2 linked regions of the Homo sapiens genome follow. The protein of the gene in region 2 purifies or fractionates together with the protein of the main gene of each other region. This does not show direct contact. Each region holds a gene or a part of one and is shown on either strand. Other genes may lie near its edges. The genes, in order: ARPIN and DNAAF9.

Region 1 (3,811 bases), on a different chromosome or scaffold from region 2:
TGCCCTGCATGGCTTCTCATACCTGGGTCAGGAACTCTTCAACTGCCAGGCATTGGGCACCCTCTGCCTCTCTGAAACACCCTGCAAATCCCTGGCACCTGGCTGACCTCTGCTTATCTTTCAGGATTCAGTCCTGTTATTCCCTGCTCTAGGGCATCCCCAGCCATGCCTGCCTGGGCTCAGCACCCTTCACGGGATCCAGGCCCGGGCCTGTCCATCTCCTCTACTGGACTAAGAACATTTCAAGTATACGACTGGGTCTTGTTCATCCCTGGACCTCTCAGCATGTGGCACAAGGGCTGGCACATGATATAGATGGTCCCTAATGTTCAGAGAGTCAATGAGTAACTGAAGGTATGAATGAATAAAGTGATAGAGTCCCACTCAACCTCAAAACCTTCTCACCCAGGGGCAGACAGCAAAGAGGCTCAACCAGAGACAAAATCAGGAAGAAGAAGAAGATCATGGAGGGCTTGCTATGGTTGGAATGTATCCCCCAAAATTCGTACGTTAACAGGAGGCTGAGGCAGGAGAATCGCTTGAGCCTGGGAGGCGGAGGTTGCAGTGATCCAAGATTGAGCCACTGCACTCCAGCCTGGGGGACAGAGCCAGACTTTGTCTCAGACAGCAAAAGAAAAGGAAAAAAAAAAAGTCAAACTCAGCTGCCTTTCCTCCACTGATGGAGTATGGACATAATGCCTAGAAGTAAAGTGGCCATCAAAAAGTATTATTATTATTATTACTATTTTTTTTTGAAACGGAGTCTCACTCTGTTGCCTAGGCTGGAGTGCAGTGGTGCAATCTCGGCTCACTGCACCTCCACCTCCTGGGTTCAAGTGATTCTCCTGCCTCAGCCTCCCAGATAGCTGGTATTACAGGTGCACGCCACCATGCCCAGCTAATTTTTGTATTTTTAGTAGAGCTGGGGTTTCACCATGTTCGCCAGGCCGGTCTCGAACTCCTGACCTCAAGTGATCCACCCACCTCGGCCTCCCAAAGTGCTGGGATTATAGGCATGAGCCACCACACTCACCCTAAAATTTTTTTAAAAAAGAAAAAAAATCATATGTTGAAACTTAATCACCAATGTGATAGTATTAAGAGGTGGGACCTTTAGGAGGTGAGTCATGGCATACGAGTGGGATGAGTGCTTTACAGAAGAGATTGAAGAGAGAGCCGCCTTGCCTTCTGCCATGTGAGGACTCAGCAAGAAGGCACCGTCTCTGAAGCGCAAAGCAAGCCCTCACCGGACACTGAATCTGCTGGCACCCTGACCTTGGACTTCCCCGCCTCCAGAACTGTAAGCCAGACATTTCTGTTCTTAAGTAGGTGCAGTGGCACACACCTACAGTCCCAGCTATTCTGGAGGCTGAGGAGGGAGGATCACTTGAAGACTATAGTGTGCTATGATTGCACCTGAGAATAACCACTACACTCCAGCCTGGGCTACATAGCAAAACCCAGCCACTAAAAATGCACAAAGAAACAAAAATTTTAAAAATTAAAAATAAAATAAACAAACACATTTCTATTGTTAATAAATCACCCAGCCTAAGGTATTTTGTTATATAGCACGCACGGACTGAGACCCCAGAACCAAAAGAGGATTTGGGCAGTAAAACAGAGACCGCCTAGGGCCTGGCCTGGGCTCTGCACAAAGGCAGTTAGAGCCCAAAGCCAGGTTTGTGGGTGATTCTGCCAGATACAGGAAATGGCAGGAGGTGGGAAGGCCAGCCTGGCCCCTGGAATGGAGGGGAGGGAACGGGGATCCTCTGAGTAAATGGGAGGCAAGGCCAGGGGTGGATGTGGAAGCCTCAGGCCACATACAGGGCTTCAACATCAAGAGGGCTGAAGAGACACTTTCCAGGGGCTAAGAGGCTCAGAAGAGAAAGGCCGCCACACTGCAGGAGGGCCCTGAGGGAGAGAGGGAGGGCAGAGGATACCTACTGTAGGACGACATGAGGAAGCCCGTGTTCACCTTCCTGGTGGCGCTGAAGTTGGGCTCGATTTCATTTCCCTTGGCGTCGAATTTACGGCGATGGATGTGACTGGGCCGGATATACAGCACGTAGTAGCGCTCCTGGGGCCAGGCAGACAGAGAGTGAGGGGGCGGCTTCATCCCACAACACACACACTCTGGGCTCCGGCTGCAGCCCCGCCAACCTCACATCTACCCTAGAAGCCCACCTCAGCTCCAAAAGATGTTCAAGCTAGGCAGATGCTCCCTCTGCCCCCAAATACTTATGCATTCATGGGTTCACAAGAGCACCTGCCGCATATAATGAGCCCTGCTAGAAGTTCCTAACAGGGCAAGCCCAGGGCTTCCACACAGCCAAAGACAAAAAGTATATATAGAAAACCATAACTTGGGCTGGGCACAGTGGCTCACGTCTGTAATCCCAGCACTTTGGGAGGCAGTGGCGAGTGGATCACGAGGTCAGGAGTTCGAGACCAGCCTGGCCAGCATGGTGAAACCCTGTCTCCATCAAAAATATAAAAAATTAGCCAGGTGTGGTGGCATGTGCCTGTAATCCCAGCTATTCAGGAGGCTAAGGCAGGAGAATCGCTTGAGCCCAGGAGGCGGAGGTTGCTGTAAGCCGAGATCCTGCCACTGTACTCCAGCCGGGGAGACAGAATGAGACTTCATCTCAAAAAACAAAAACAAAACAAAACAAAACCATAACCCAAGCCCGAGGACCGCAAATACCATGAAGCAGGAATGGGCGCTGCCAAGGTGCAATGGAAAGGGCACTGAAAAGGAGCCCTGGGTGAGGGCAGCCACTCTGCCCCTTCCAACAGCCTGGGACAAACCACTCAGTTTCCCCATCACATGGGGATAACGTGATGTCTGTGTTTAAGAATATTATGAGGGTTCAATGAGATAACAGAGGGGCAAGCACAGTGCCAAGCGTGAACTGTGCTATAAGTGCTGTTTGCCAGTTGTTCAAGGCAGGTGGGTGAAATGCTCCCAGGGCCTGAAGAATAGGAGGCCACATCCTGGTGGAATCAAGAAAGATGAAGTCTTGGAGGGTAGGGAGGTCTGCCAACTGTGGGAATAAGAAGCTGTAGGAATAATATTAAAAGCCTGGGACAGTATAGGAAATAAAAGCCAAGAGGCCCTTGTGCATGTTTGAGCCACGCAGGGCACCTGGAGGCCTTCTGGGAGCCCAGGCTGGGAAAGCAAGTGGGCTTGGTTCAGGACAGGTCTTGAGTTGGCATTCGGAGTTTGGATTTTATTTGATGGACAAGGAATCCTGAAAGGTTTCTGAGCAGCAGTGAGACCCTCAGAGATGTATTTCTGGAAAGACATTTGTCCTATTGGCAGCAGGGCAGGGATGAGTTCTGGGGACAGCCAGAAGGCAGGGGGACAGGTGCAAGGTTTTATCAGGACAGGCTGAGGGCCCATCTCAGGTAAGCAGCCATGGAAAGAGGAAGGGAAGGCAAGGGAGGGGGAGGAATGGGCAAGGGCCCAATGCCAGCAGGGCCTGGCATTGCTTACCTGGGGAGGAGACAGTGAGGGTTCCCAGCCCGGTGGCTGGGAGGGCAACTGCACCATCACCAGGAATGGAACTCAGAGGAGGCAAGTTTTAAGAGGGGCTAGGAGAAGGCCCTGCCTGACGGCAGATGAGGCAAGCAAGCCCCACATCAGCATGGAGACACTGCTGGGCTCTCCTGGGCAGGCTAGCTAGGGGCTCTGATGGGTGTTCCCACCTGCCCACTGTGTGCTAAGGAGGGGAGGGTGCAGCAAAATACCGCCTGACATGAAAATAGTGCTGAGCTGTTCTCATGGGGTACAGGAGGGACATGCAGG
Region 2 (3,811 bases):
TCTCAGGTGAGGAGCTCTGGGAGGTCCTAGTGGGATGAAGTTCCCACGGTGTGCAGTGGTACTGATGTGCAAACACACTCTTTTATTTATTTATTTATTTTTTTGAGATAGAGTCTTGCTTTGTCACCCAGGTTGGAGTGCAGTGGCGTGATCTTGGCTCACTGCAACCTCCATCTCCTGGGTTCATGCAATTCTCCTGCCTCAGCCTCCCGAGTAGCTGGGATTACAGGCATGCGCCACCACGCCTGGCTAATTTTTGTATTTTTAGTACAGACAGGGTTTCACCATATTGATCAGGCTGGTCTTGAACTCCTGACCTCAAGTGATCCACCCACCTCAGCCTCCCAAAGTGCTGGGATTACAGGCGTGAGCCACCATGCCCGGCCACAAACACACTCTTTATTGGCTGTTTCCCCCTCTCCTCTTTCATCCTCCTGTTTCCTATTTAGTGTCTCCTAGAATCACTTCCAAAATAAACTACCTGTACTTAACTCCTTGTTCACGGTTGGCTTTCAGGGGAACATGCATTATAAGGACTACCTTATGCCCATGTTGTCCTCCCCAGGAGCACCCAGGTTGTCCGGGCCTATAGGAGCTGTTTATGAAAGGGGCCTCCTCAAATCCAAAGCAGGGGCTCCTGGAGTCCCAGAATACTTTCCTGCCCCACCTGCTCATTACTGGCATCCTGGGGACCTAGACTCTGTGTCCTTTTTAGCTTTTTGTCCCCAAACCCCTCAGGAAAAGGCCCCAGTGAGCATGGCGACTGAAGCAGAGGCTGGGGGTCAGAGCCTGGAGGCTGGGAGGCTCATCAAGGGGGTCTCTCAATCAGCCTCTTATCCTGGCCTCAGGTTCCACAGCCTTCCTATGAGCAGCCTCTGGATCCAGACAGTTTTTGCCTGGGCTCTAGCTGGTTCATCTGTAACATAGGTCTTCTGCAGTTGCTTGAACAAGGTGCCAAGGCAGGGCTTCTGGTCATCAGCTTCTCCCACAAGTACTGGCTCTACTCAATCTGATGCCCAGGTCACACCAGAGGTCTCCTGTGCCCTCCTCACTGAGGCTGCAAAGGCCAGAATTCTGTACGCAGCTTCCCTCTGTGGCCTGGGAGAAGCAAGACCTCCAGCATGTCCTACAAACAGCTCCTCACTCAGAGAATCCAAAATACAGAGCTAGGCAAGCCGAGGACAGCCCTGGGCCACCGAGGGGAGAAGCCAGGGCAAGGCACTCACGTGGATGCTCCTGATCTCCTGTTGCGTCAGCATCCCCCTGGTCTTCAGGGCTTTCCTCTGAGGCTTCTGCAGAGATGGGGAGTGGAGGGTCAGGTCCCAGCAGAACTCATGGAGTGCATGGGCAGGGGAGGGCTCTGGGCTCTATTACACAACTAAGATCTCAGCAGTGGGGAAAGCACGTGCGCTATGGCCTGGATATAATATTCTGTCTAGTCTGCTCTTTGAGAAAACCACTTTCCCATCACAGAGCCCTGTGAGCCAGCAGGGAACAAGCAGCAGAGGACAGCCCAGTGTTTTCGTAAATGGGAATGGTCGTGCCTCTTTGTAGATTCTTATCCCTCAACCCTACCAATGAGAGGCAGACAAAGGGGCAGTCTGAGGCCCCACAGTCAAGAACCGTTTAGAAGCTTATCCAAGTGAGGCAGCCCATCCCTCAGCATAAAGACAGGTCCCTAGTGAGCATCTGCAGAAGAGCCAGGCCCCAGCTAACTCTAGTCCCAGAGTTCTAGGATGAACTAAACCCCCAAGGCTGTGCTACAAGGCTTAGCACCCAAACCTTGCAGAGAACCTGGCTCACAAAGCAAACAACATAGCAGGCCTGCCTGGAGTTTGCTCTCAGTGGCTTCCTCCCTCTCTCAAAGTGTCCCTGCAAGTGCTGGCTGGGCCAGGGAGAGGAAGCCCAGTGGGGAGGCATCAGGGAGGCAGTGGCGGGGCTTCTCAGGGCCAACAGCAGCTCTGAGGTGTCTGGTCACATCTGTGTCAGGTCTGTCTGGGCTCTGGAAACCACCTGCTTAGCTGACTGCCGCAGCCAGTCCTTGATGCTGTCTTCCTTCAGGGAGCAGCCGATGAACACAAGGTAGCACTCCTGCTGCCCGCTGCTGTCTTGAGATACGCTTTTGGAGTCTGGTGGTGGTGTGGGTCCTTCCAAAACTGGCATGATGCTCAAGGAGTTGGCCAGTGTGTTGTAGCAGACCTCCATGGTCCTCTCAGAGTCTGTAAGGAGAATACACATTAGTCCCTGAGAGCCTGCCTTGAAAGGATACAGCTATGCTAAGACTGTGACAATGCAGATGGTTGGGATAGATTCATGAGAAAATGCAAGAGACAGAACTGATGTGACTGGTGGCAGCTTAGAAAGGATGGAGTAGGTGGGCACAGTGGCTCATGCTTGTGGTCCCAGCTACTCAGGAGGCTGAGGCAGGAGGAGCACTTGAGCCCAGGAATTCAAGGCTGCAGTGAGCTGAGATTGCGCCACTGTACTCCAGCCTGGGTGACAGAGGGAGATCCCATTTTGTTTTGTTTTTTAAAAAGGAAAAGAAAGGATGGAGTAAGAGAGAGAGACAGAGAGGAACAAAATAAGTTTCTGGCTTGGCTGATCTGGGTGATCAGGTGGACACTATTATCCCAGAAGGGAAACACAAGAGAAAAAAAAGGTTTATAGGTGGGAGAAGAGGAAGAGTTTGACTCTGCACTTGTGGCATTTGAAAGTCTCTAAGACCCTGAGCGTGAGACATCCACATAGTCCCTGGTGGTTGCTGGAATAGCTGTTATGGAAGAGGTGGTTGAGGAAAAGCAAAGAAACCCCCTTGGTAGAAGTGGGGGGCTCTCAGCAGAGGCCTCAGAGGCCAAGGGAGGAGGGCACAGCCAACAGTACAACAAAAAAATTAGCTGGGTGTGATGGTATGTTCCTGTAGTCCCAGTTACTTGGGAGGCTGGGGTGGGCAGTGACCTAGGATTGCACTACTGCACTCCAGCCTGGGCAACAGAGCAAGACCCTGTCTCAAAAACAAAACAAAACAGACAAAAAAACCAGTACAGCAGTGTTGCACGAAGGTCACACAGATGAGAATGGGAAAAAGTGTTACATGCTAAGGAGATGAGGGCTAGGAGTGACTGGAGACCCAAGAAGTGGGCAAGGGCTCCCTGAAAGGCAGGATGAGAAAGGATCCGGAAAAAAGCGAGGTTAAATTTGAACAAAAAAAGAGTCAATAGCAGATCTAAATAAACAAGAGGCTGGGTGTGGTGGCTAATACCTTAATTCCAGCACTTTGGGAGGCCGAGGCAGGAGGATCACTTGAGCCCGGGAATTCGAGACCAGCCTGGGCAACATAGGGAGACCTTGTCTCCACAAAAAAGAAAAAAAATCAGCCAGGCATGGTGGTTCACGCCTATAGTCCCAGCTACTTGGGAGGCTGAGGTAGGATGATCGCTTGAGCCTGGGAGGTCAAGGATGCAGTGAGCCGAGATCAAACCACTATACTCTGGATTAGGTGACAAAGTGAGACATTGTCTCAAAAAATAAAAAGAAGAAAGAAATAAAAATATTTATTTATTTATTTTATTGAGACGGAGTTTCACTCTGTCGCCCAGGCTGGAGTGCAGTGGCACAATCTCGGCTCACTGCAACGGCCGCCTCCTGGGTTCAAGTGATTCTCCTACCTCAGCCTCCCAAGTAGCTGGGATTAAAGGCATGTGCCACCATGCCCGGCTAATTTTTTTTTTTGAGACAGAGTTTTGCTCTTGTTGCCCAAGCTGGAGTGCAGTGGTACAATCTTGGCTCACTACAACCTCCATCTCCCAGGTTC

Evidence for each region.
Region 1: the proteins of DNAAF9 (region 2) and ARPIN fractionate together in Homo sapiens (co-fractionation; one large-scale study listed by BioGRID). This does not show direct contact.

The regions. Positions count from the first base shown.
Region 1 is NC_000015.10:89,906,333-89,910,143, forward strand, and holds part of ARPIN (arpin), read right to left. Parts: intron 2,081-3,811; coding exon 1,948-2,080; intron 1-1,947. Other genes in the region: ARPIN-AP3S2 (uncharacterized protein LOC100526783), read right to left, coding at 1,948-2,080. UniProt on the Homo sapiens protein: Regulates actin polymerization by inhibiting the actin-nucleating activity of the Arp2/3 complex; the function is competitive with nucleation promoting factors.
Region 2 is NC_000020.11:3,253,993-3,257,803, forward strand, and holds part of DNAAF9 (dynein axonemal assembly factor 9), read right to left. Parts: intron 2,220-3,811; coding exon 2,014-2,219; intron 1,293-2,013; coding exon 1,227-1,292; intron 1-1,226. UniProt on the Homo sapiens protein: May act as an effector for ARL3.